4 linked regions of the Homo sapiens genome follow. The protein of the gene in region 1 interacts with the protein of each later gene in a biochemical or structural test. Each region holds a gene or a part of one and is shown in the gene's direction. Other genes may lie near its edges.

The links.
Region 2: of the proteins of TRIM65 (region 1) and IFIH1, one has a biochemical effect on the other in vitro, tested with the Homo sapiens proteins (2 studies listed by BioGRID, with this or other methods).
Region 3: the proteins of TRIM65 (region 1) and VCAM1 form a complex in vitro, tested with the Homo sapiens proteins (one study listed by BioGRID).
Region 4: of the proteins of TRIM65 (region 1) and RIGI, one has a biochemical effect on the other in vitro, tested with the Homo sapiens proteins (one study listed by BioGRID).

The regions. Positions count from the first base shown.
Region 1 is NC_000017.11:75,893,927-75,901,789, reverse strand, and holds the start of TRIM65 (E3 ubiquitin-protein ligase TRIM65), read left to right. Parts: upstream 1-4,838; 5' UTR 4,839-4,852; coding exon 4,853-5,266; intron 5,267-7,863. Other genes in the region: MRPL38 (large ribosomal subunit protein mL38 precursor), read left to right, coding at 1-78, 517-589, 763-808, 2,116-2,274, 2,496-2,632, 2,804-2,940. UniProt on the Homo sapiens protein: E3 ubiquitin ligase that plays a role in several processes including innate immnity, autophagy or inflammation.
Region 2 is NC_000002.12:162,273,685-162,280,709, reverse strand, and holds part of IFIH1 (interferon-induced helicase C domain-containing protein 1), read left to right. Parts: intron 1-597; coding exon 598-714; intron 715-2,381; coding exon 2,382-2,505; intron 2,506-3,016; coding exon 3,017-3,295; intron 3,296-3,763; coding exon 3,764-4,023; intron 4,024-6,765; coding exon 6,766-6,915; intron 6,916-7,025.
Region 3 is NC_000001.11:100,729,736-100,736,760, forward strand, and holds part of VCAM1 (vascular cell adhesion protein 1 isoform a precursor), read left to right. Parts: intron 1-1,462; coding exon 1,463-1,783; intron 1,784-2,682; coding exon 2,683-2,949; intron 2,950-4,766; coding exon 4,767-5,033; intron 5,034-7,025. UniProt on the Homo sapiens protein: Cell adhesion glycoprotein predominantly expressed on the surface of endothelial cells that plays an important role in immune surveillance and inflammation.
Region 4 is NC_000009.12:32,516,182-32,523,206, reverse strand, and holds part of RIGI (antiviral innate immune response receptor RIG-I), read left to right. Parts: intron 1-7,025.

The DNA.
Region 1 (7,863 bases):
CCCCTGCACGTGGCCTACGCTGTGGGTGAGGATGACCTGATGCCTGTGTACTGTGGCAATGAGGTGACTCCAACCGAGGTAACCACTCACTTGTGCCCCTCCTCCCTGCCCTGTGCAAACACAGACACATCCCATCTCAGTGTCACAGACACTCCTGGGTTTGGAATTTTGTTGTTCTCTGTCTCTTTGATTTCCTGGAAGACGACACCATGACAATTTCAAAGAAAATAGAACAAAATGAAGGAAAAAGAGGCTCTGTCTTAGCACATTCCTGTGACCAGCCTGCTGTCTGTGGTGTGCCCTCCTGGCCCGGCCTTGGCACATGTTCGTTTTTGTGGTTGTTGCCTGGACAGGCAACTCTGCAGGGCTGCTTCTCTACGCATCCCTTTGCCTGCCTGCCTGTGCCAGGGGTTGTCAAGGGCTTTTGGGTCAGAGTGGGCACCCCTTTCTCCAAGGCTCCCTGCAACAGCTGGCCTGTCCCTGGTGGGGCTGACAGCTTCCTTCTCACCCTGCCAGGCTGCCCAAGCGCCAGAGGTGACCTATGAGGCAGAAGAGGGCTCCTTGTGGACGTTGCTACTCACTAGCTTGGGTGGGTGTCTGGGGCTCACCAGGCCTCCTGCCCCGCTCACCTCCTATGAGCCAGGGCCCTGGGGGGCTGGGGGAGGGGCCAGGTGGAGATCTCCAGCGCTGGCTCCTAACAAGGGAGGGGGTGGCAGGGCCGTGGTCGGCTGGGCCGTGGTCAGCAGGTGTGTTTTTGTGCAGATGGGCACCTGCTGGAGCCAGATGCTGAGTACCTCCACTGGCTGCTGTGAGTACTGGAGTACTGGGGGTAGGGGGTGCTGCCCAGGCGGGAAGAGGAGCTGGGAGCCTGGACTGAGCTGCTCCTGAGTTTCATGGACTACCCATGGGACCTTGAATTCACCTGCCACCTCTGCCTCCTGAGGGTGTTAGGGGCCCTGGGATCCACGTGTCTACTTGAAGACAGCTACAGGAGACAAAGTTTGCAGTAGGCCTCGGTCAGTCCCCACAAGCCTCCTCATCTTTTCTTTTCTTTTTTTTTTTTTTTTTTGAGACAGGGTCTCACTCTGTCCCCCAGGCTGGAGTACAGTGGTGCAATCATGGCTAATTGCAGCCGCTAACTCCTGGGCTCAGGTGCTCTTCCCACCTCAGTCTCCTGAGTAGCTGGGACTACAGGTGCAAACCACTACACCCAGCTAATTTTTGTATTTTTTTATAGAGACAGGGTTTCACCATGTTGCCCAGGCTGGTCTCCTGAGCTCAAGCGATCTGCCCGCCTCCGCCTCCCAAAGTGCTAGGATTATAAGCGTGAGCCACCATGCCTGGGCCCTTCGTCTCTAAACTCATTTCTTCACCTGTAAAACTGGGATAATGGCACCACATGCCTTACTCAGCGTGAGGTGGACTGTGACAGTCACGTGGGAGAAGGAGCGGGAGAGGCCTAGCAGCTGTGGCGTCCCCCAGGTGCTCCTTGAACCACTGGGCGCTCCTTCCCTGGGCCCAGACTGGGCGGCCTTCCATCTTGGTAGCTTTTGGCTCTGAACACCAGGCCAGGGGGCAGAGGTCAGGCCAGTGACCCCAACTTTGAGCCTTCTGGTTAACTGGGGACAGTGACTGGGAGGCTGGTTTCCGTCATTTTTATTCAACTGTTACCAGCCTATGCGGCAGGACCCTCTGGGGATTTGTGCCTGAGGCGTTGGCCGCCCCTGTGCCAGGCTGGGCACACACTCCCTGACGAGGTCCTGGAGACTTCAGGACGCAGAGGGAAAAGCAGCCAAAAGTGGCCTGGCTTTCTAGCCTCAGTGACTGTGGCGGACCCACCGGCTCCCGGGGCCTGGAAGCGGCTGCATGGCCTTGCTGTCAAGCTGATGCTCTCTGGAGCCCTGTCCCCCACTCGGAGCTCCTCCAGCCCGCTTCCCGTATTTGCAGCATGTCCCGGCGTTCACAGAGCTTGGCTGCCTCCTCTGTCCCAGGAGAGAGATGCTTAGAGCTGTCCTCCCAGGGAGTCATGTCAGCCTCTAGGGTGTGCATGGAGCTGAGGGGACACTCCTGCTGCCTCCCTGGAGTGGTAATTAACCGGGACTTTCCTCCTCCCAGAACCAACATCCCGGGTAACCGGGTGGCTGAAGGACAGGTGACGTGTCCCTACCTCCCCCCCTTCCCTGCCCGAGGCTCCGGCATCCACCGTCTTGCCTTCCTGCTCTTCAAGCAGGACCAGCCGATTGACTTCTCTGAGGACGCACGCCCCTCACCCTGGTAATCTACACCACCCACACATAACCCGGCCTCAGGCCAGCTCCCCTGGAACGGTCACTCTTGCTCAGTTCTCTCTTGACCTCAGCCTTGAGACTGGCAGAAGAGCAGGATAGGGTGCTAGCAGACTCCCAGGGGCCTCTCAGGGTTACCTGTTGGGGTGGCGGGGTGAGGGGCTCTGGTGCCCCACTCCACACTCTCATACGCTCTCTATCTTCTCATAGCTATCAGCTGGCCCAGCGGACCTTCCGCACTTTTGATTTCTACAAGAAACACCAAGAAACCATGACTCCAGCCGGCTTGTCCTTCTTCCAGTGCCGCTGGGATGACTCCGTCACCTACATCTTCCACCAGCTTCTGGGTAAGGGCCATGGGGCTGGGGCACTGGGTGGGCCTGAGCTCCCAGGCCTCGCCTGCCCTGCCAGGGAGAAGCTTTGTTAGGGGAAGGCTGCGGCAGGTCCCTGGTGGGCAGGCCTCAGCCTGAGGGGGCGCAGGCCAGCAGACCACCCCGTACCCCTCACTCTTCTTGCAGACATGCGGGAGCCGGTGTTTGAGTTCGTGCGGCCGCCCCCTTACCACCCCAAGCAGAAGCGCTTCCCCCACCGGCAGCCCCTGCGCTACCTGGACCGGTACAGGGACAGTCATGAGCCCACCTATGGCATCTACTAAGGAGCCAGAGTGTGCGCATTTCAGAGCATGGGATTGATCGGCAGCAAGAGTAAAGACACAGCTCCAGAGGCCCACACTGTGGGGTCTGGGCCCTGCCTTAGGCAGCCCCCCTCTTTGGCCCCCTCCCGTCAGGCCCAGGGCTTGGAGTGAAAGTGACTCTCAGGTGGTGGGGTGGGGAATGTGAATAAACATGATTTCTTGCCGGGCTTGGTGGCTCACACCTGTAATTCCAACACTGGGAGGCTGAGAAGGGAGGGTCGCTTGAGCCCAGGAGTTCAAGACCAGCTGGCAATATAATGAGACCCTGCCTGTATTTTTTAAAAAAAGGGATTTCTGCCATAGCTGGCCTGGGTCGGTGCTCCAGGGCCAGAGGACCCCGATGGAGCTTCATGGGTGGGAAACGGGCTGCCTCCCACCCCACTAAGTGCGTCCTCACCTCCGTCTTCTGAGGGTGTCAGGGGCCCTGGGATCCGAAGCAAAAGCAGGCAGTGGGCCAAAAACAGGTGTGGCCCAGGGAAGGGAGACATCCCAATCCAGCAGGTTCCTGAAACCCAGCTCCCCGAAAAAGTGGAGCAGAGCAGCTGGGCTCAGGAAGGAGCATTTATTGAGCACTGGCTCTGTGCCTCAGGGGGGTCCCACCGGCCCCTGGAGAGAGAGTGCCTGCCCGAGCACTGACCCTCTGCACAGGCTCCAGCCCCCACCCCATGCTTGGGAGGAGAAGCCACATTAGGTAGGCAACAGCGTGTCTCAAGAGACCTGCTCAGGGTCAGAAAACCCATGGAGTCTTGCGGCTGGATGGTTAGGTGTTTTGTTTCTCCCTTACCAAAAGCAGAAGTCTGGCTAACTAGTAGGTGGAGGGTAGATCCGTGCACTTTGTCCAGAAAGAAACTTCGTCTATGGCCGCACAGAGGACGCAGTGCTTGCTGCAGCAGTGAGAGCTCGTGCCGCCTCAACATCAGCCCAGCTTGGTTAGAAAGGCCGTACTCTCCTGGGGTTCCCCCTGGCCTGATACACACTGTCAGGTAGGTGGGCGCTAGGCCCCAGACCCGCCTTGCCTGCTCAGCTTCAGGGGAAATGCTGGAGTGCCTGTAAATACTGAGGCTGCAGATCAGCTTGGACCCCAGGCAAGGAACTCTCCCCAGCGGAGGGCAGCAGGAAGAGGGGATGCTGATTGCAGATGAAAGCTGGTTTGTGTATTCATTCAGGGCCATTTGAAAAATACCAGTTAACTGGTCCCTGTCTCTTGGTGACCAGACATTTCCATCTCGCTGTTTACTTTAAAAGAACCAAAATTACGTGTAGCCCAGAGAAGGGAGACACCCCAGTCTGGCAAGTGTCCGAAACCCAGCTCCAGGAAAAAGTGCAGCAGTGCTCGGGTCTGCAGGGAGCCCGCCAGCCCGTTTCATCGCCAAGCCCCGGGGGATTGTTGGGGGTGGGGGTCTATGCTGTTAGGCGACTGGCAGATGAGTCCAGAAGAGGTTCCGCGCGGCCCGTGGTCAGAAGCCCGGAGTCCTGGCGGGGTTTTCGAGCCTCTGGTCTCCAGGACCTGGGCTGAAGGCCCAGGGGGGTGGGATGGACCCGCCAGGCTGGGACCCTAGAGAGCCGAACTCAGCTCTCAGCCGGGGTGGCGTGGACCCTAACGGAGGGAGGGGCGCAAGGCGGGAACGCGGAACCTTCGAGCGGGCCAGGCCGAGGTGGGCAGGGGTGGCCTAGGCCCCTGCGGCGGTCGCTCGTCGAGGGTGTCAGAGAAGGGCCTGCCGCCCCCCTCCGCCTTCCCGGGCGCGGATCTCGCCCCGCCCCGCCCGGATCTCGCCCCGCCCCGCGTTAGCCACGCCCAGGCGCCCTCAGCGCGCGAGGCCCGCGGTCCCTTTAAGACGCCCGGGGCCCGCCTGGCTCTCGCCGCCGCCGGGCCATGGCCGCGCAGCTGCTGGAGGAGAAGCTGACCTGCGCCATCTGCCTGGGGCTCTACCAGGACCCAGTGACGCTGCCCTGCGGCCACAACTTCTGCGGGGCCTGCATCCGGGACTGGTGGGACCGCTGCGGAAAGGCGTGCCCCGAGTGCCGGGAGCCCTTTCCCGACGGCGCCGAGCTGCGCCGCAACGTGGCCCTCAGCGGCGTGCTGGAGGTGGTGCGCGCCGGGCCCGCCCGGGATCCCGGCCCCGATCCCGGCCCCGGCCCCGACCCTGCCGCGCGCTGCCCCCGCCACGGGCGGCCGCTGGAGCTCTTCTGCCGGACCGAGGGCCGCTGTGTGTGCAGCGTGTGCACCGTGCGCGAGTGTCGCCTCCACGAGCGGGCGCTGCTGGATGCCGAGCGCCTCAAGCGCGAGGTGACGCATCCGCCGGGAGCGGGAGGGGTCCGGACCCGCCGCAGCCTGGCCACCGCCGGGTGACTCCTGCGGGCCGCGCCCTGCTCTCTCGGGCACCCGGCGGGGGCGGGGAGCCTCATCTGTAAGGGGCTTCTCCCAACCTGGGAGCTGATTATAAAAGTCGTGGGTCTGCCAGGCGCAGTGGCTCACGACTGTAATCCCAGCACTTTGGGAGGCCGAGGCGGGCGGATCACGAGGTCAGGAGATCGAGACCATCCTGGCTAACACGGTGAAACCCGGTCTCTACTAAAAATACAAAAAGTTAGCCGGGCGTGGTGGCGGGCGCCTGTAGTCCCATCTACTCGGGAGGCTGAGGCAGGAGAATGGCGTGAACCCGGGAAGTGGAGCTTGCAGTAAGCCGAGATCGTGCCACTGCACTCCAGTCTGGGCGACAGAGCGAGACTCCGTCTCAGAAAATAAACAAACAAAAAATCGTGGGTCTGTGCATCAGACTGGGATATGCAGCCCGGCCAGTGACACAGGGTGGGTCTCAGAAGCTGCTCGGTGCCCTCTGGATGAACAAAGCCTGGGCGTGAGGCAGCAGCTCCCTGCTCCGTGCCCAAGCGCTAGAGAACCGTCGTGTGTCTCCTGCGCTCCGAGAGCCTCCTTTCATTCGCTGTGCGGGGTTGTGGAGGGCGAGGGGGCTATGGGGGCTGTTGGTAAATGGATCAGACGAGCTCCCTGCCCTTAAGAGACTTAGAATCCACTTAAGAAGTCAGTGTTCCAGTAAGGCGTGAATGTATTATTACAAAATGCAGTGAGGAAAGCACATGGCATGTGATAGAGGGGTTGGGGTGACCCTGCTAAACGGGCCAGGAGGAGGAAGGGGAGGCCGCCTTCAGGCTGGCATGTGAGGATTGAGGAAGCGCAAGCCAGGAGAAAGACCTGGGGAAGAGCATTCTAGGCAGAGGAATCAGCCTGGTCCCGTCTCTGGGATGGGAAAGAACTGGGCACGCGGGGTCCCTAGTGGCAGATTTGTGCCACTGAGATCTGTGGGCCAGGCCCTGGGGGTCAGCAGGGGCAGGATCGGGCAGGGTCCTGGGGGAGTCTGGCTCTTACTGTAGGGTCATGGGGGCCATTATAGGCTTGGAAGCAGGTTGGCACATGATCAGATTTGGGCTTCATGGAGACTGATCACCTGGCTGGGGGCTGAAGGGGGCAGGATGTAAGACCCGAATCGGGTAGGAGTGCAGGGAGGCAAAGAACCAGCTGGGGATCAGGGAAGGGAGACCAAGATGGAGGAGGAGATGAGAAACGCTGAGGGGAAGTGGTACCTTGTGGAGGCGAAAGCAGGCCAGAGGGGACACGGGGGACAGCAGAGAGGGCGGCAAGGGAGACACCTGGGTTTCTGTCTTGAGCACGCAGGTGGCTGGGGTGCTATGTCCTGAGAGGCGTAGGTGGAGGGCAGAGTTTGGCCTTGGACATATAGAGGTCACAGTGGCCAGTGGGACAAACCAGGGGACGGGCCTGTGGCACCTGGGACCCTGGCCCCAGCCCTGCCGCGCGCTGACCCCGCCCCGGGCAGCTGCTGGAGCTCTTCTGCCAGACCAAGGGCTGTTGTGTTTGCAGCTTGTGCACCATGAGTGAGGGTCACCTCCTCAAGTGGGTGCTGCCGCCAGGAGCAGGAGGGGGCCGGACCCCCCGCAGCCTGGCCACCACCGGGTGCAGTGGCTCACGCCTGTAATCCCAGCACTTTGGGAGGCGGAGGCCGGTGGATCACGAGGTCAGGAGATTGAGACCATCCTGGCTAACATGGTGAAACCCTGTCTCTACTAAAAATACAAAAAATTAGCCAGGCCTGGTGGCGGGCGCCTGTAGTCCCAGCTCCTCTGGTGGCTGAGGCTGGAGAATGGCGTGAACCCGGGAGGCGGAGCTTGCTGTGAGCTCCAAAGCTCAGGAGCGGGGAGCTGGAAGTCGAGAGCTGGGAATCATTAGCGCTAGGAGGAAGAGAAGGTTCCAAGCTGGAGCTCCCAGGGAGATGGGGAAGGTCGGGGGAATGGCAGCCCTGTGTGGCACCTGGAGACAGGGGTGCCAGGAAGAGAACGGGCAGGATGCCCATGCTGATCAGAGGCTCAGTACGAGGACAGAAATGACCTTCAGCATCGGTACTGTGGAGGTGGTCCGTGCCCTTGACAAAACCCATTTCAGCAGCGAAGACAGGATGTGGAATCATTCGGGGACAGAGGAGGCCTGGGGCTAAGGCGTGGATGGAGGATGGCGCAGGGACGCTGGATGGGACAGGAAGGGAAGGGGTGGCCAGGAGGCCTGATGGGCAGGGAGGGATGGGAGAGTGCACGGCTGGGGGTCGGTGAGGTGGGAGGACTGAGACAGAGGTGGCTGGAACAGGAGAGGGCACGAAGGCAGTGGTCAGAGAAGGAAGAATCGATGCCTAGAATGGAGATTTTAGAGCTGGTGACAGGGCCAGGGTGAGTTCACAGGAGCGGCTGAGATGAGGTGAAGGAAAAGGGCTCCAGAGTGTTGCGGGACATTCCTTGTAGCTGCTGAAGCCGCCGAGGAGGATGAGACGAGATGTACTGCTCATGGGCGGGTGCAGAAGA
Region 2 (7,025 bases), on another chromosome or scaffold:
AAATTATGTAGAGTAGACACAACATTCAGAGATGCAATTATAGGCTCCAAAATATAATTTATTACTGGGATTAAGGACTAATTCCAATCTAATAATCAAGGAACATGACTAAGGATGCTCCCAGCTTTATGTGTAGATGCCTGCTTTATGTGTAGAAGAAGGTGGTAGTATGATCCACGGATGTCAAGTTGACCTTTGATATGCCTCATGTAACATGGTTATCTCAAAATCATTCTCTGTCAATGATGGTAAATTGTTATACTCTTTCCATGTCAGTTTTCCACTTGGAAAATGGAATTTAAGGAATGAATATCAATACACCTTTTTCTCTGTTATTACACCAACTTGATTTAGAAGCTCCTTTTTCCTATATTAGGACAAATGTTGCTGATTGTGGGTTAATGAGATCCATAATAAAACAATGTTAAAATGCTATATTTAGCAAGCAATGCTACATATTACTTTCATGAAATTTTATACCACATATTTATGCTACAATTTAATGCTACATATTTTTTACATGAAAAAGAGTTCTACGTTGAATAAAGTGAAAGGGAAAAATAATTGCATAAATATTGAAAAATGTCTCTTTTCCAGCTATGTGCCAATCTTGATGCATTTACTATTAAAACTGTTAAAGAAAACCTTGATCAACTGAAAAACCAAATACAGGAGCCATGCAAGAAGTTTGCCATTGCAGATGCAACCAGAGAAGTATGGGCTTAATGTTTTATATCTATTGATTGACAATACTACATTCAGTAGAAAGATGGCAAAGGCTATTTTATACTGACCATCTGAAAAATATTATTTAAAAATTTTAGCAAACAAGTTTCAGGTTTTTTTTTAATTGATGTTAGGCAGTAAAGCACTACAGTGAATTCTCGCCTCTAGACCTCTTTTAGTTTTCTAATTTACATGAGGAATAGCTTATTCATTGTTTGTACATATGAGTTAAAAGGGACAGTGAGGGGCCATGGGCAGAGGGATGTGTAACTAAGCTGGAGGGGTTATGACAGTTCGTTTTAGCCTTTTTAATTTTCTTCGTGAATTCCAGGATTGATTTTCTGACATTCCACAGAGCCATTTTGTTGCTATCAAATTACATTTGGCAATGATAATGGGAATCCTATCTAATTTGCATACTTGCATATTTACTTTCTTAGGAAAACAGTGCAATGGTAAAGAAGTGAAATATTTACTTTAATGATGCTTTTCTGATGAATTTTTCAGGAATTATAAGAATAAACTGAGAGTCAATTTGGACATTATGGCCAGTAAATTATGTCAATACTTTATTTTGTAAAATTTAGAAAGCATTACAAATTCTGGCCATATGTACTTGATAATACCATTGAAAATAAGAATGTTGGGATCAAATGATATGAAATATGCATAGTAGATAAAACAATGCTTGAAATATAGTAGGCACTAAACCAATGTTAGTAACTAGCCTCCGTATATCTCTTTTTTTAAATTCTGAAAAAGACTGCTATCTACTCCAGCTGCACTAGCACAGTTGAATATATTTTATTCACTTTCCTTTTTTTGTTACTTATTTGGTTTTACTTGATAATTTTAAATGCATGTTTCTACTCATAAAGATTTTTAAAACTAAATTTCTCAGGTACATTTTTTAAAAGAATTTGCCATTTTTTAAACTTACTTTAATTTTTTTATATACCTTGAAGCATAACATACATACAGAAAAGTACAAATTCATATGTGTACTGATTGCTGAATTTTCCTAAACTGAATACACATATGTAAACAAAATCCAAATCAAGAGACAGCACACTGCCAGTATCCTAAAAGCTCCTGGCTCCCCCTTCCAGTCACCATGCCCCAGGAATCACTACTATCTTGACTTCTAAAACAAAAAATGAGTTTTCACTGATTCTGAACTTTATATAAATGGAATCATATAGCATGCACTCCTTTATTTCTGGCTTTATTCAGACTCTACTTCAACTTTTTATTTTGGTCGAAATAATACTGAAACCAGTTTTACAAAGGAGGAATGTTTCTTAAATTACACTGTAAGCTTTCTAAATAATTGTGGCATTAATGCAATATGTGTTTTCTAAGTTACCTTTAACATACAAGGTTTATATAATTCATTAACTTTACTTTTGTTAACCTTTTAAGTTGGAGATTCCAGCAGAGGTAACAGGGTGTTGGTGTGGGTGTGGCTTGATGGCAGGCTTAAAAGAGAAGCTGACAAAAATAAATGTACAGACAAGTGATGGGACACTAACCTGTTACTTTGTCTAAACAAAGATGAATCAGATTTATTATAACCTAGAAATTATTCTAACAAAGATAATGTTATTCCTTTAACAATAAGAATACATAAGAATAAGTGTGTACTTTATTTTTAGGATCCATTTAAAGAGAAACTTCTAGAAATAATGACAAGGATTCAAACTTATTGTCAAATGAGTCCAATGTCAGATTTTGGAACTCAACCCTATGAACAATGGGCCATTCAAATGGAAAAAAAAGGTAATTTAGGTTTGGACCTAACACTTAGTTTATCCCATGTTTATACCAAGATTTTAGATGACTATATCACAGATTCCCCAAAAAATGGAAAGCAAAAGTAGTTCCAAATAGAATTTCTGTGTTCTCTGTAGGACAAGCATAATAAACATGTTCTAATTCCTTTTCTAAGGAGAGAGATTCCAATGCTATCCAATTTTCTCTTTGTCTCCAGAGTCTTGAGATAAACTTTAATAGCTCTGTCTCCAAAGGCAAACTCAACTAATATATTTTCATGCCATTTCTCTGTGCATCAGCTACATGTTTTTGCTGAGGCAGAACTCAAGCAGCAAGTCTAGGAGTTGGAAAACTTGCCCTGTTTCAGAGCTCAGGACACATTTTGAGCCTTAACTTGCCCATTTTAAAACCAAGGTGAAGCCAGTTTTGCAGTTAGTAACATATATTCAAGTCCATGGCACAATTTTAGGGGGTTTATATGCTTATTATTTCACTTACATAATATATTTTTTCACAGCTGCAAAAGAAGGAAATCGCAAAGAACGTGTTTGTGCAGAACATTTGAGGAAGTACAATGAGGCCCTACAAATTAATGACACAATTCGAATGATAGATGCGTATACTCATCTTGAAACTTTCTATAATGAAGAGAAAGATAAGAAGTTTGCAGTCATAGAAGATGATAGTGATGAGGGTGGTGATGATGAGTATTGTGATGGTGATGAAGATGAGGATGATTTAAAGAAACCTTTGAAACTGGATGAAACAGATAGATTTCTCATGACTTTATTTTTTGGTAAGATTCAAAGTAACATATACTGGTGTCATTCATTTACCTTTTCAACATGAACTTACTGCTTCTCATAAGCTCTCCAAAAAGAGAAATATCTTTTGAAAGAAGAAATCCCACTCAGATTGGAACTATTTCTAATGATATGACCAGATTAGCTACCAGTTGTATGATCACAGTCAGTCATTTGGTCATTCAGTTTTATTGTCAAGACAATTGTAATGAATTTATTTATTAAACCATCCTAATTATTAGATATAGCGCAAGATTGTAGATGAGCCACAATTCATGAAACCTTCTAGTGTAATTCGTTGTATGTTTTACTAATTTATACTTCCAAATAGTTTTTAAATTAATTAATTTTTAATCAATAAAACTGTATATTTTTGGTGTACAAAATGTTTGATATATCTGTACATTGTGGAGTGGCTAAATCAAGCTTGTTAACATATCAACTCTAATTATTTCTTAAAGAAAACAATAAAATGTTGAAAAGGCTGGCTGAAAACCCAGAATATGAAAATGAAAAGCTGACCAAATTAAGAAATACCATAATGGAGCAATATACTAGGACTGAGGAATCAGCACGAGGAATAATCTTTACAAAAACACGACAGAGTGCATATGCGCTTTCCCAGTGGATTACTGAAAATGAAAAATTTGCTGAAGTAGGAGTCAAAGCCCACCATCTGATTGGAGCTGGACACAGCAGTGAGTTCAAACCCATGACACAGGTATAAATATCCTTTTGGACGACTTCTTTTCTTTTCTTTCTCTTTTCTTCTTCTCTTCTCTTCTTCTCTTCTTCTTTTCTTTCAGACGAGGCCTCGCTCTGTCACTCAGGCTGAAGAGCAGTGGCATGATCAAGATTCACTGCACCCTTGACCTCCTAGGCTCAAGCAATCCTCCAGCCCCAGCCTCCTGAGCAGCTGGGACTCTAGGTGTGCACCACCACACCCAACTAATTTTTTTATCTTTTTTGTAGAAAAGGTGTCCCACTATGTTGTCCTGGCTTGTCTTAAACTCCTGGGCTCAAGCCATCCTTCTGCCTCTGCCTTCCAAAGTATTGAGATTATAGGCACGAGCCACTGCGCTCAGCCTGGACTTCTTTTCTTATGCTGTTATTACTCTTCTCAAATTGTTTTTAGTCTTTTTCTACCAATCCTCTCACCACCCATGAATACATTTACAGGATAAAACACCTGTTCTTGAAATAAAATCTAAGGCTAATAGCAATCAAATCTGTGGTTTTTGAGAGGTTAAGTGTTGTTTTAGGAGTCATTTTTCCCACATAATAATTGGAAGAACTTTCTAAGTTTCCCTTGCAAAAATAAGTGACATGTAAGCTTAACAACAAAGTTCAGAAATGATTGCCATGTAGTATCAAGTGGAAAATTCAAACTCCCACAAAAATGTGTTCGTTATAACTAGAACTATGCAAAATATATTTACATAGAATGAGACCTCTAGGGAAACTTGAAAAAACTAAAGAATTTGATATATTAGAGATTTGGGATTCTGGTAAGTAGGTTTTCTGTTCCATTTTAAGGTGTTTTGTTTTACTTTGTTTACATGTTGCTTACTGTGGGCATAGTAAAAAAACACTTGGGTAAGAAAAAAAGGCACTAGTAGACATTACAAGCATGCATGAAGCAATGATGCCTTGTTAGAGTAAAATATTCTTCTGAGGGCTAAAATCACATTGACCCTGAGTCTTTCTGGACAAATGGATACTTCCTTTCTATTATAGTTATCACTATTCAAGCCAATGGAGCAAATTAATTCTGTTTCAGTGTTTGCTGGAAAAAAATTCTTGAAATGGTTCACTATAACTCTTTATATACCCTCTACATGCACTCCTGTGAGCATTGCCAATAAAATTAATGCCAGAGAAAGTACTGTTTTCCTTGGGTAACAAGTTTGCTTCCTTCTTTTTGATGAGATGTAGTTTGCTTTATATGTTTTTCTTTTTGCCTTAGCTTCCAGAAAGCTAGCAGGAAAAACTCAAGTTCAGTCTCACAGCCTCTGTGTTGATTCTTATGAGTTCTGTTTTTAAATTTCTATTATATTAACTTTAGCGTTGTGACTTTTATTGTAAGAGGGCTAAGCTTCTCTGTAAAAAGAGGTAGAGTGCAAATGAAAAGCCTATGTTCAAGCTACTTTCTGCTCCTTATTCATTTCAAACCAAGGGGCTGTGTGCCAAAATACAGAACATATTCCCTTCCTTCCCCACTCCTTGTATCCTCACCTTGTAAACTGGGGTGGACAAACTCCTTAGCAATGGTGTTAGGCATCTATGTGATGTGACTTGAAGATCTGACACTGTCTGGAATTTTTGTTATTAAAGTTACTCCTTCAAATTAAGACACAGGCATCTTCTGCTAAAATCCAAGAACATGTAAGTTTTTATCGGGAGATGTGAGGGCCGGAGGGAGAAATTTTCAGAGAAGACTCAAGAGAGGCCTTTCTACAGGGTTCTCCGACAGTTAGGAGTAGGAGTCAAATAAGGACTCACACTGCCTCTGAGAAGAAAGGGAAGGGGATGGAAGAACATACTTTTGGTCTGGCAGCTTTATTTTTGTTTAATGTATGGGGGCAATAGACAGTGTGGATGTGCACCAAATGCCAACTGGACCAACAGCTTTGATGAGAGTGGTTATGAAAATAAAACCACATTGTCCATATCAAGCTAGGTTTGTGCTCACTCATTTCTCCCATGTAAGGATGAGAGGTCATATTTTAATTTATTTATATTGACTTTCAAAATTCAGAGTTTTTTCATTTGAAAATAGTTTTATTTACAGTTGCATAACCTCTTCTTTCATTTTTATTTATATTGTCCCTTTGAATTGATAATATATTTACCTCATTCAAAATTAATGAGGCACAAGGCATACCACTGACCTCTAGTCTTCCAGCTCCCCTCCCTAGATGCAGCTGATGTTTTCAGTTTCTCTTGTGTCCTTTTGGGAATATTCCATAGCTTCTAACTCAAATGATTCTTAAAGTGACCAAATGCATATACAGTGTGCATTTTCTCTGTGACTGAAAACAATATATCAAAGCATCTCTGCATCTTATCCTCTAAATAGCAAAGATTCTGAAGTTAATGTAGTGGGGGAAAAAAGCCCATTTTAGCTTCTGATTGTCATATCCTCTTCTCAACCGACAGCTCCTCCTTTCTTCCTCTGGAGTCACCCATCAATTTATTTCCTTGGCATAAAATGTGGTCTTCCCACCTCCAGACTGGATGATGGAAATATTTTTGTTATTGTGTGGTAATCCCAGATTGGAAATCAAATGTTGTCTCACCATTATGTCTTTGTTCAATGCCAAAAACAGATGGCAACAAATCCATGTATGATCTAATCCTTTGATTTACACTGACCAGTTGCAATTTATTATTTCTTCCTCTAATTAGAAGATTTTAATGTGTTTAGCATCACAAAATTTAATTTATTAAAATGTTTCTACAGAATGAACAAAAAGAAGTCATTAGTAAATTTCGCACTGGAAAAATAAATCTGCTTATCGCTACCACAGTGGCAGAAGAAGGTCTGGATATTAAAGAATGTAACATTGTTATCCGTTATGGTCTCGTCACCAATGAAATAGCCATGGTCCAGGTACATTCAAATACCTCTACTTACTATGTTAATTTTTATTTGTTGTGTTCCTATTTTAATTGCTTTCTTTTAGTTAAACAGCAAAAACATCTTTTTAGTTTTTAAAACAA
Region 3 (7,025 bases), on another chromosome or scaffold:
TAGTTTTAAACTGTTTTAAGGCACTGTTTTAAAGGCACATTTGATGAGCTGTCTGCAGGATGGGAAAAAAATAAGGGAATAGGAAGCAGAAGGAAGCCAAAATTAAAGATAAGAAGTTAGATTGGGGATGGGGATGGTCAGTGTCAGTGGCTCAGGTGAAAAGCAGAATCAGGAAGCAGCGCTAGATCTTAATGTTGATTTATGCCACCTACATATACTACACTTTCTCTCACTCTTCTTTTGTCTTAATAAACATTCTTTGCAACCTCAAATCTCTATGAACTTGACATTGCTGGAGTTCCTCAGTCCATATTGAATGAAGAACAAAATATGCAAAGTGACCATAAAGTTATTTTTTTTTGAGGGGGTCACTCTGCCTTGTTTTATTCAGTAGAACTCAAGAGAACATATCGTAGAGATTTTCTACCAGAAACCCTGCCCAAACTTGTGTTACCCTTCAGGATTTTGTTCAGAATGAGTTAGAGTATGCCTGTAAAGGGATTTGGGTCTCTCCAAAGAAAGATAAATTTTATTTGCATTATCATATTACCCAGAGTCCATGATCTGCTGAGATAGGCACATTCCCAGCAGAAATGAGAACCAGCAGTGGGGTCTTATTGCAACATAGAAATATTTGAGCATGTATCACTTTAACAACATTTTGGTTAAGGAAAAAAATGTTTAAGCATTATTCTTGCCCTTGATAGCTATCTTAGTCTCATTTTACTGATTTGTACTGTATTATAAAGAATACAGTTAAGGCAGTTCTTGATTACAAGTATTATCTGAGAAATATTTAAAACTTGCTGCCTAAATTTGGTCATTAAAATTTAAACTAAGTTGAGAACTTCCTTGTTTGTCTTATTTGATACTGAGAGACTGCACAGCTCTGTAAAACCAAAGCTGGGCTCTGAGGTCAGAGAAATATGGATTTGCAGCCCATCTCAGTGACTTACTAGGTATAATGTGTGAAGAAAGTCTCTTAGCCTCTATATGTTTCAGTATTCCTGGCTGTAAAATAAGTAATACTCATTTTACACAGCTGCTTTGAAGACTGAGATAATGAATATTAGGGGACTAGTTTACAATAAGTATTCAACATAACATGGCAAATTTTAAAATGTGAAATATATACTTACTAAATAAGATGGTGGAAACTGATGTATACTTAGAAAAGGTCAAGCCATGGCACACAGCAAGATTGCATATTAAGAAGAAAAGAAATAAGTGAAAATTTATTACTCAATGACTGGATATACTAAGTAGTTTTTGTTTCTAACATTATTCATATATAATATCATAAATATGTCATTTATAAATACTGTCATTACTTATATATTGACAGTCATTCTATCCCAGGTGACTTAAAGCTGTCATTTTTAGGCCTTTACATTTAATAAAGCTTAGCTCAATTTTTCCTTGAATATCAAGAATAAAAATCGTTTTTGCTTGCGATTTGCAGCATTCCCTAGAGATCCAGAAATCGAGATGAGTGGTGGCCTCGTGAATGGGAGCTCTGTCACTGTAAGCTGCAAGGTTCCTAGCGTGTACCCCCTTGACCGGCTGGAGATTGAATTACTTAAGGGGGAGACTATTCTGGAGAATATAGAGTTTTTGGAGGATACGGATATGAAATCTCTAGAGAACAAAAGTTTGGAAATGACCTTCATCCCTACCATTGAAGATACTGGAAAAGCTCTTGTTTGTCAGGCTAAGTTACATATTGATGACATGGAATTCGAACCCAAACAAAGGCAGAGTACGCAAACACTTTATGTCAATGGTAAGTACATATGTGAGGTATCTACAGTTTAATACCTGTCTCTTTATCGTGTTTGCCAGGCAATAGTTAACATAAGGTTAATCGTTAAAACCTCTGTGGAGAAAAAACGTTACTGAAAAGAAATTTCAAAATAATGATGATTGTAACAAATCACCCTCCCTAAACTTAAAATAGTAACTATTTACTGGCTTATGATGCTTTGAGTAGGCAATTTAGGAAGGGACCAGCTAGGCAGTTATTCTGTTCAATATGGTATTAGCTGAGCTCACTCGTGCATTTTCAGTAAGGTTAGCAGGGCTGGCTGGTCTCAGATGACTTCACCCACATGTCTGGAGCCATATCTTGGATGACTTGGCCTCTCTTTCTTTATGTGGTGTCACCCTGAGGAACAGTAGCCTAGATTTACTCTCCAGAGCTCAGTGTTTCAAGAAGGTGTAAATGAAAGCAGCCTCTTCAAGGCCTGGGTTTGGAAGTCCTACAGTGTTACTTCTTCTTCCACATTCAATTGGTCAAAGTGAGTCATGAGGCCAGCCTAGAGATTCAAGGGGTGGAAAAATAGACCACATCTTTTCACAGAAGGAGATTCAAATAATTCACAGTCATGTTGACTCTACCATAAATGGCAGTACACACTATCATTGACCCTCGTCATTCTTTGGTTGCAAGGAAGTGTATACTGAACTTACTTCCATTAGAAAACACCATGACGTGTCCATGTTCTACTCTATCATTTGGTATCAGCTAAAGTAAATGAGGACCAAAACCTCTTGTGGTGAATTATCAAGGTTTACAAACTCTTTGAGTCTGCTGAATCCATAGCCCAGTTTTGCAACATTATTAAAACTCTTTGGAACTCAGGGCATAATAGGTCAAGCTAACAAGCGTCTCTGCCTTTTCAGTTGCCCCCAGAGATACAACCGTCTTGGTCAGCCCTTCCTCCATCCTGGAGGAAGGCAGTTCTGTGAATATGACATGCTTGAGCCAGGGCTTTCCTGCTCCGAAAATCCTGTGGAGCAGGCAGCTCCCTAACGGGGAGCTACAGCCTCTTTCTGAGAATGCAACTCTCACCTTAATTTCTACAAAAATGGAAGATTCTGGGGTTTATTTATGTGAAGGAATTAACCAGGCTGGAAGAAGCAGAAAGGAAGTGGAATTAATTATCCAAGGTGAGCAGAGTGTGAGTAATGAGTTATCCTTGCTAGTAATGTTTTTGGTTATGTTACTGATTATGAGTAAAGTCTTTGAAAACAAAATTTTTACTACAAAAGTGTGATGAGGGTTTTGAAGAGTTTATGATGTTTCCAATGTATGGAGAAATCTCCTGAAATTGTCTTTTCTCATGAATTGTTACAAGTTTCTTATCCTGAGATTCTTTTAAACTCAAGTGAAATGCAAGCCTTCAGGACCTGTGTCAGAAGTTCCAGTTACACTTATGAGGCAATGGTTATGGTATTGAAATAAGAATAGGAAGAGGAATATCTGCATTTGGGATTATGTAGGATTAAAGCTACCATATCTGGCTGAATTGAACTCTGAGTGGCAATCTCACAAGATGGCCAGTAGTATTTGCTTAGAAGCCTAAGCTGGCACTTAAGTCTTTTGCAAATTCTGAGATTATGAGTAGCCATGACTCCGTCCTTTGGTTCATCAGCCTGAGAGCATGGAAGCACTAAAGTAGATTAAGTCAACAGATCTAGGCCCCTTCTCTTTAGGATGGAGACCCAAGATTGAGAACAAGACAATTATTAGTTCGCAGGTTGAAGCCATACGGAGTTATGAGCAAAATCATCAGGTGATCAATGTGGATTTCCTCTATCCCATCCCTTTTGGGTATCAGGGTTCTTTTCTTTGCCAGGGTTGTCATTTTGTCTATTACCCCTTGGCATTATTCCCACTAAGATATTAGTGACTTTCTTGTTATCTCAACTCAATAAGATTTGTATTTTAGAAGAAGAATATTGGAAAGACAATACACATCCTTAAAAAACAGACAAACAAACAAAAAAACCTTTTGGATGGTTGTCATGACCTTGGATGGGGAAAGAATTTCAAATCAACTTACAAAATAGAAGACCTTAATAGGGATTAAAAATTGGTGATATGGTACCTGCCTCCAGTGGTTGTTGCATTAATAGAGATGTTATATGTCAAGTACTTAGCTCAGTGCTTGGAACTTAATAAATGGCAGTAGTATTGTTAAGGATAGTGAAAAAGCCACATCTGTACAGCTTAACTTCTTGATTGAAGAATCCAACTCAAAACTCAGAAACCTGTAAAGGCCTTTGTACTTCAAGGAAATTTTTTCAAAACAGTATTACAAAAAATTAAGTTTCTATTTCACATCTGAATTCTATAGCTCTTTATCAAACACTGTATTTGTCAATTTTCACACTGCTATAAAGATACTACTTGAGATTGGTAATTTATAAAAGAGGTTTAATACAGTTCCACATGGCTGGGAAGACCTCACAAAATGTGCAATCATGGCAGAGGAGAAAGGGAAGCAAGGCACACCTTAACATGGCGGCAGGCAAGAGAGAGTGAGGAAGTGCCACACTTTAAAACCAAAAGTTCTCGTAAAAACTCATTAACTATCATGAGAACAGCATGGGGGAAACAGCCCCCATGATCCAGTCACCTCTCACCAGGTTCCTCCCTCAAAACGTGAGGATTACAATTCAAGTTGAGACCTGGATGGGGACACAGAGCCAAACCATATCAAACACCTATTCTTTGTGCTAGGCTGGGTAAATAATTATATTAAGGAACATGAAAGAAGCATAAGCCATGTACTCTCTTAGTTAAAACATGATCATTTCCAACAATCCAGCAATGCTTGACTTCTTTACTTGCCCTTCTTAACATTTAATGCAAACGCTAAGCACAAATAGCTCCAGGGAAGCTATTGTTGATGTCGCTAAATTAATATGGAGTTGGTTTATATTTCACTCAATCAGGGATGTCTTTTAAATTCTCTTTACAGTTACTCCAAAAGACATAAAACTTACAGCTTTTCCTTCTGAGAGTGTCAAAGAAGGAGACACTGTCATCATCTCTTGTACATGTGGAAATGTTCCAGAAACATGGATAATCCTGAAGAAAAAAGCGGAGACAGGAGACACAGTACTAAAATCTATAGATGGCGCCTATACCATCCGAAAGGCCCAGTTGAAGGATGCGGGAGTATATGAATGTGAATCTAAAAACAAAGTTGGCTCACAATTAAGAAGTTTAACACTTGATGTTCAAGGTGAGTTTGTTTTGAGTTTTTGTTTTCTTGGTAATAGTTCAGAGGTTCCAAGGATTACTAAGAGTTTCCAATATTTGATGAATGAGTTGGCAAAATGGAGCTGTGGTTTATTTCTTAAGGATTCTTGGAAAAATCAAGCACAGCTGCTTTATCCTATAAAGTTTAGCCAGGAAGTTGACATTAATCATTCGTGACTGAGGAATTCCTGCTTGCTTTTTTCAGTTTACAATTTATCATTTGTCTCTGAGGTCTTGCAGTTGCTAAATGTTTAACCATATTTTCAAACCTTTTCCCGGGAGGTTATAAGGAAACTAAAGAAGTAGGATTGGCACATTGAAAAAGAAGGGTTCTATCCAGACCCTCTTCCTTTCTACCAGAAGGAAACACTATTTTCTGAACATGGAGTAACTGCAATTTTCTGGATTGACTCTTTTCAGGATAATAATTGGGAATAGTAAACTTGATCCTGAACAACATAAAAAAATCTCTCGACTATCGAAAAGCCTCATTAAAATTCCAACCCACTTGCCATCCTACTCTATTCTGGTGGACAGAGAAAGAGAGGAGCAGTATCCTCATTGGAGAAACTTCAGGGGCCCCTTAATCTCCTAAGCCCTCTTGTGAATGCACAGTAGGTAGGATCTGCTGATCTTATTGGTGTAAACAAAATACATCAGCCTTGGCTGATCAGTATCACACCCCTTGCACACCAATTAGCTGCTATTGTGTAATGGAGGCCATACTTGGCGGTGGAGTGCAAACAGGACTGCAAACAAATGCCAAGTCTTAAGAGGTCTGGCACTTGGCTATTGGAGTGAGCAATCACTTGTCAATGCAGAGAAAATTTGAATCTACATCAGAAACAGGTAAAATTTTTGTTCGTCTACCCAAATTTCTCAAAATGGCAAGCCTTACCGTATGTATGTTTTCCATCTTCACAGTACCTCCTCAAAACATGAGAATAGCTGTATAGCTATACATCCATCTAGAAATGTTAAAGAAGGGGAAAACATCACGATTATATATGAAACTTCTAGTCATCCACCTGCAGTGATTATCCTGAAAAGAATTGATCTAGCCAATGAAGTTACTATGTGTTCAAAGAAGGGAACATTTACTTTGTATCATGTCACTCAAAATGATTCAGGGGTATATGTAATCAGTGCTTCCAATGAGGTTGGGGATGATTCTGGACAGATTGCAATCTCAGTTATGAGTAGGTTGAATTTACTCATCCCTATTTTCTTTAATCCTTAATGCCTCTGGGCCACCTTTAATTAAGCCTAGCCCTGGGAAATTGGTCCCCTAACATTTCTGTAATTCTTTTGTTAATTAATTGTGACCTTTTAAAGACACATCAAACCTGCTTCTCTACTTTTTGACTCTGTCTCACACACATTGCTTTATTTTCTAATTGCTTTATCAAATTAGCCACTTACACAGTTGCTACTTTTTACTCATTATTTAAATGAACAATCAAAGAATATTAAGCGCTCAGCTAGAAACTCATGCCCCCAAACTGAATATAGTTTAAACTAGCTAAATTTTAATGAAGACCAAAAAATGGATATTTTTCTGGGTATTTTGAACTAGATTTCTTTTGCATTTGGCTGGATTTTTTATTTGTTTCATTTTGTCTTAGCTTGAACGTATTCCATTAATAGAAATCATCAGGATTTTTAAAAGATATTCAGTGTTTATATGACAAATAGAAAATTGTATTTGAAGGTTGCCCTGGCAACTACCTTGGCAGCAAATTTGTATTTTTCTGCCAATGCCTGTGGGGAAGACTGAAAGGCAAAAGATAATGTATATTACATTGAAAAGAAAGAAAGAAAAGAAATAGAAATAGTATTTCTGTTTCTCAGCATGTCATCAATATTGATGCCTATCCATAATCATGTTGATGGACATCCCATTCAAATATTACCTTTATACTTTGACTAGCTCAGCTCTAGCAAGGGAAAGTCAAAAAGTGAGACAATTATCATT
Region 4 (7,025 bases), on another chromosome or scaffold:
ACTGAGACAACAAGTTTTGCCAAGGCTTTAATTGGGAGCTGCAGCAAAGGAGGTAGGAGATCAGTCTCAAATCCATCTCCCTGACCCGTTGAAATTAGGGGTATGGATAGAAGGAAAGAAATATAACTAGGTGTTGGAAAATGGACTCTGGAGGGGTAAGGAAGCAATCATGATAAATGAGGGGCCTGGTGTCTCATTGTCTGGATGTGATGGTCTGATGAGTTTCAGTTCTTTTATACCTTTTGAGAGGCCTGGGGGTCCTTTTCCTGGGGAAGGAACTCAGATAAAACAAATATAAGTTTCAGCTTTAAGATCAGGAGGGTCAATTTCCATGTTTATTCGAAAGAATTGTATATGGGACTATTGTGTTGGTTTCAGTCCCCCTCTTTCTATTTATCAATTCCTGGATCATGGGGAATCTGATCCTCAATCTTTCTGGCAGCTTCATGCTGAGGAATGGCGTGGTGGGCAGTTCCATACTATGGGTGACCACGTGGCCATCCAGGAATCAAAAGTTAATCTAATACTATAGTTTTCTTCTGAGACACAATCTGTATCATTACTGTTCCCCGCTTCCACCAAAGACATATCACAGCTGGATGGGCCTACCTGCAAAATAAGCCTCAGTTACATATACTTGGCTTATTTACCCACACAAAGTGCAGCAAAAATTATTGTCCATATGGGCTCTCCTAATTGGCTTTGCTGGAACCTCTCACAAGGCCATTTCAGTCAAAGCCCTGGGAAAATAACTTGTTCCTCCAACTGTGTCCCCTTATAAAAGAAAACAGATTTTTATTAAATGTATGCAAGAAAACACATTGCCATGAACTAAGAATATTCACAAATAGTTTATAAATTCTGGAGAAATTAGGGAGAGAGAAAATGCCTCAAATTCTGTTTAAAAGGGTATACTCTACTTAATATACTGTATTCTTAAAGGTTATGAAGAGCTTAAAAGAAAAAATTCTCCAGATTCCAAAAAACAAAAATTCTCCAGACTTTTTCAAACAAAACCATAAAAAATTATTTCAGTCCCACATTAGTTCAGTCCATGCAATCAACTCCTGCTGTGTTTCATATTGGGTTAGTAATCTTTATAAACATGTCAGCCTTTTAATTAAGAGGGACTCTAATTAAGAGTCCTAGAAGTTTTCTGTATTCCAGTGGCACAGTCTCCAAAGTTATCAGAAATCTGCATTCAAGACTCCTTTTCATGAAGTCCCCTAAATAAACAAGCTCTGGACTATATCTGATTATAAGTCACTTTTTGAAAAGAATCAATGCAAAACAACAATTGCAATGACAAAAGTCTTAGGAGAGCCATAAAGACACAGTTGACAAGGAAATTTTTTTTTCTGTTGGCATACAACAATTTAACATAATAATCATCATTACTGACACCATATATTAAGACATATCAGAATTTTAGGAATCTCATATAGTCCTGCAACACATATTAATAGCACATCTATACAAATATAACCCAAAGGAAGTTAAATACCACCTCACATTTGATAATGCTGCCTGTATAATTCTAATATACCAAAGAAGCCTAACATGTCTGTCTGTATTGGAATTCAAGGAAGCTAATACACAAAAAAGTTAGTTTGAGGTTAAAAAAAACCCCCTGAATTTAGAACTTGAAATATTTGCTGTTGGGAAGTCTGTCAGTATCAAAGATTTAAGACACTTGATATCACAAAATAGGATCACAGGTCGCTACAAAATAGTTATTCATTTAGCCAAAAAGATAAAACAAACACATTTACCCTTTGATAGGCGACTCAGTTTCCCAACAATAAGGCCTAATAAAGACAGCATGAGGCCAACTAAATGTCTCTCCCTCTTCCTTTTCTTCCCCCCACAGTTCACTCAAAAGGTAAACAAATATTTTATGTCAATATTATACAAACATTTTATTCAAAAGAGAACATCAAATTTTACCTTTGTATGGTATATTTTTAATGTTAAAGCTAATTTTAATAAAACCTTATAAGCCGAATTTTAATCAGTTTGACTATAAGATAGGATTTCTGTGAAGTTTTTTTTTTTTTTTTTTTTTTTGAGATGGTGTCTGGCTCTGTTGCCCAGGCTACAGTGGTGCGATCTTGGCTCACTGCAACCTCTGCCTCCTGGGTTCAAGCAATTCTCCTGCCTCAACCTCCCTAGTAGCTGGGATTACAGGCCATGCCACCACACTTGGCTAATTTTTGTATTTTTAGTAGAGACGGGGTTTCACCATGTTGGCCAGGCTGGTCTCCAACTCGTGGCCTCAGCTGATCCGCCTGCCTCGGCCTCCCAAAGTGCTGGGATTACAGGCGTGAGCCACCACACCCGGCCTGAGTCACCAGCCCCGGCCTGAGCCACCACGCCCAGCCTGAGCCACCACACCCAGCCATCTTTTTATAACGTTTTACGATTTCCTATTAAAGAGTAGAGTAATGCTCCAAGAAAACCCTGTTATGACACAGGGGCCCAGACATTGGCCTTGCATCAGTGTGCTTTTGATGTTAATGTTTAATTTATAGAAAAACCCTGAACTAATTTTATAACTCAAAATCAGCCCTTACAAGCTCACGTGCTCACCTTTTGTGCAATAGTTCCTGGGCGTAGAGGGATTGAATGGTTTTAATTTCTAGCCCTATGTCTCATGAAAGCAGTTCATTTTGATTGTCACCTTCTCCTGAGTCTGAAGACGAGGCTTCATTTGGTGTCAGTGCTCAAGATTTAGCAGGTATTGGTGTCTTTTTTGGATCCAGGAGTCAAAGGCCTTTGAATTACTAAATAATTGTTTCCTAAGAATTATTTAATAGCATATTTATACTGCAGGAAACCTCATCATTCTCTCTAATATGTCACAAAATAAAACCCTGGGATTTGGTGCCTAGTAGTTACTGTCTGAAACACTTCAACCCATTATACAATCCATTGTATTAAAGTGGTTAGGTTACTCCTTGCATTTATCTGCTAGCATTCTAGTGACAAAACTGTGACCTAGAGCCTCAAAAATGTGGTAAGTCCTGTGCCAAACTTACCAAAGTAAGATAGTTAACTTTTCTTTCCATCATTAAAAAAAAAAATGGTAAATGCAAGTATCAGTTTTGGAAATTCAATATGAAGATAAATCTTTCATTTAAAAAGTATACAACAAAACAAGGACAAAGTGACAATAAGCACACAGTAATTTCTTTTCAGCTATTTTGAAAGAGCCTCATCATACATTTCCAAGATTGGTTTCTAGATAAAGTACTGACAACTGATTTAAGTGACTTACACCACTAGAATCTTCAAACTGGCATAACACTTGTATGTACATATTTTGTTTTCAAGTATACATGTGAAGGCCCATCAGTGATAAATGGCTTAGGATAAAAAAAACACTAGAAAGTCTTATAATTTTTTTTATGACTTAATCCAAGTAAATGTTATTTAATCTTAATAATAGTAAACACAACTAAATTAGTTTGAGAGAAAGCCCAATCAATATAATTTCCTTAAAGACAAAGCCAATTTTTTTCTGAATATTAAGACTTTGTACCCATATAGCAGTTTTGCCTCATTAAAGGAAAAGATCTGAAACCGCTATTGTTTATTGAATTGAATTACCTTGGAAATAAACACCACTTAAACATTTCTCTCACCTACTTTTCCAAATAACCAATAATAATGTACTATTTCTGTTCAGAACTTAGAAGAATAAACCTTTTATTATTTTTTGCCAGGAATCTTAAAGTTCTTATAGCTCTCTAGTTCATTAGAGGTAAGCAAAACCAAACAAATTTTAAAGGCTGGTGTCCACCAACAATTTTTGGAAGCTTGAAAAAGGTAGCTTAGGAACTTTGGATAAGTAGAGCAAATGATGAGATACTGGAAATGCATAGGAAACAAAATGATTATTCATGGAACCAAATAAAAGCCTTCCTTACATTAGAAACTAAAAGCCATCAATGGTTTTATTAATATGTATATATAAGTAAAACCTAAAGAAGAAGAAACAGCAAATAAATGCAAATTAAAAGAAAAAACAAACAGGAAACCAACCTGAAAATTTTCTACTCAGTTTAACTTGGAGGCTATAGTGTTACCCAGAGCCAAAAAAACACATGATGAATATTTTGTTCCTGATGCACAATTTAATGTCTTTAAGTTCACCAATACCACTATATATTTTGTGCAATTAAGAAATTCACTTTAGGCTGGGCGTGGTGGCTCAGGCCTGTAATCTCAGCACTTTGGGAGGCCAAGATGGGTGAATCACTTGAGGCCAGGAGTTTGAGACCAGCCTGGCCAACATGGTAAAACCCCATCTCTACTAAAAATACAAAAATTGGCCAGGCATGATGGCACACAACTATAATCCCAGCTACTCTGGAGGAGGCCGACCAGTAAGTATTATACTGTAATGATAGTATATCTATGCAGAAGAGCAAATACAGTGTGAAGCAATGCAAGCATGTAGGTGAAATTTGGTTGTTGCTATATCTGGCTTTTATCTGGCTTCATGGTTAACTATATTAAGAAAGGATTGCCAAACTGCCAATGTGTTTCTTTACAATATTTCTTATTTTACTTTCATCAAGACTAAGAGCTTTAACTATGAGCAGTGTTAATTAGCCAGATTTCTCCAATATTCTATCTGGTTTTAAGAGAATATTATTTAAGCCTTTTATACTTTGTATTTTCTCTGTCTGTACATAAAGGTAGACACACAAAGAAATAGGAAAGAAACTACATGACTTACACACACCATCTATGATATGCTTAGACTTTCTGATTTGTCCTGGATTTTCGTTCTTTTTCTTCTTCTTTTTTTTTTTTTAAACAGTCATTTTACTTTAGGACAAAAAAAATACCATTATAAGATGCTTTGTCATACAAAATTATTTTCTTTATAACCTTCCTTACCAAAAATACATCTTTATACTCATAACTTTCTCCACATCTCTCTCGTCTACTTGTTCTTTTCTACCTTGTTTCATAAGTAACCTTTCAAGTCCATAATTATTAATAAACTTTAGATAACTTCTGAGTTAGATAAAATTTTTTTCTGAATAAAAACACATTGTCTTTTGCACATTTTATATATAGAATTACATATGAACTAGAATTCTTATCCTTAGTAACAACCTTAAATTTCAGTAAAAACCTAGGAAGCAAGAAATCTTGAGCTGCCTAGCAGATATTAGTATTTTATAGATGAGAACCATTCCACAATTTTTAGAAACATGTTCCCCACATCATAACCTTTTCTTAATTGGAAATGACTCAAACATCCAATGATTATATTTCCGATTATGCCAAAAGTTCATTTACAGCATTTGACCATTTACATTTTATTTATTTTTAGCAGTTTATCTAGATTATTTCTGCATCATTTCCTTCTTAACCATTTTATAACCTGTGAATGTCAGGTGTTCACCTAAATAACCTTAAAATTAATACGTGGGCATTTTGATCAATAACTCAGAAGATTCAGCTGTTTTCATTAAACTAACAGCATTAAATTAGTCTTATAAAGAATTCACACAAATATTCACTGGGTTTATAGCTTTATAACCTGCTGCCAAACTCTGATACCTCAAATTATCTAGCTGAGACAAATATAAAGCCGAGACAAAAATGTATGCTGACAATTCTGAAGACATTTCTATTTTTATTTTACCAATAATTTTAAAGACAGCTTGTTTATTAAAGATTTACTGAAGTCATGTGAACTTGAAAAACACTTTGGACTTAATTTATGAGCACTCTTATTTATAAGCCAATTTGGTAGGTATAGTGTATAACATAGTTAATGTACATCTAGATAAACACATCTAAACATGTATACACACACAAAGATCCAACAGCTTTTACCTTGGAACTCTAGCCATGAGATAGCAATACAAACTCACGAATCTACAACCAAGTCCACATGGCTAAAATTTGTTTGCTCCAATCGGTAATCCAATGAAGGCTGTGAACCAGAATTTTGGGTAAAGCAGTTTCCATGGCAGTTTGATTTTTAGAAGCTAGATTCCAAAGAAACCTGGGGCCAAACAGCACTACAGAAGAACGTCATGTGGAAACTACTCACCAGGCCCAACCCTGCTTAAAACAGCGGCATAAAAGCCAGAATACATGGGACTCCACCTGGCTTTCCCATTCAACAGCCAACTCCAGATTCCAAAGAATATTGGGGCAAACGTAGTACAAAAGAATATTTGTTTGTTGAATTCTAATTTCCCATTACTATATTGACACATACAATCAACAAAACACAATCCGACTGCTGAAGCAATAGACAAGCCCGAACAGTGTCCAAACTGAAACAGTCGAGGTGCTTTTCTCTCTCAATCGGGCTTTATTAACCTGCAAACAGAAATTTCTTAGGAATTTTCCAAATTGAGAGAAGCCGATCCCACTGTCTGGTACCCAAAAAAGACACTAACTTGGCCAGACACAAACACAGAAATTACAAACACGCTCTCTAGAGTATCATACTGAGAGTCAGGGTGCTTCCCTTTCTTAGTCAGTTGGGCTGGTTTAACCTGCAAATGGAAGCTCCTTTTAAAATTTTCAAATTGAGCAGATCTTGCTGTCTGGGCCAAGAAAGGACACTCACTTATCCAGATGCCAGTGTCACATTTCAAAGGCTGTTCTTCCTAGCAATCAGGAACTCAGCTGGGGCTGGCAGCAGCAGGGCCAGAGAGACCAAAACTCACTTCCAGCCAAAATTGGGTGGGCAGTTGCTTAGGAGGGCTTCTGAGACTCCTAGACCACAGCAACCCAGCCACAAAAATCTGTTACTGAAGCACCAGGGGTTTGGCCTAGGTCCTCCTGGTAGCCACACAGAAAGCCAAACAGGGAGACAACAAGTATTGCCAGGGAAGAAGCCTTTAATTGGGAGCTGTAGCCAAGAAGATGAGAGATTAGTCTCAACTCCATCTCCCTGACCCACTAAAATTAGGGGTTTATATAGCAGGGAAGAAATGTAACTGTGTGGGAAAACAGGAACTCAGGAAGCAATCATGATGAATGAG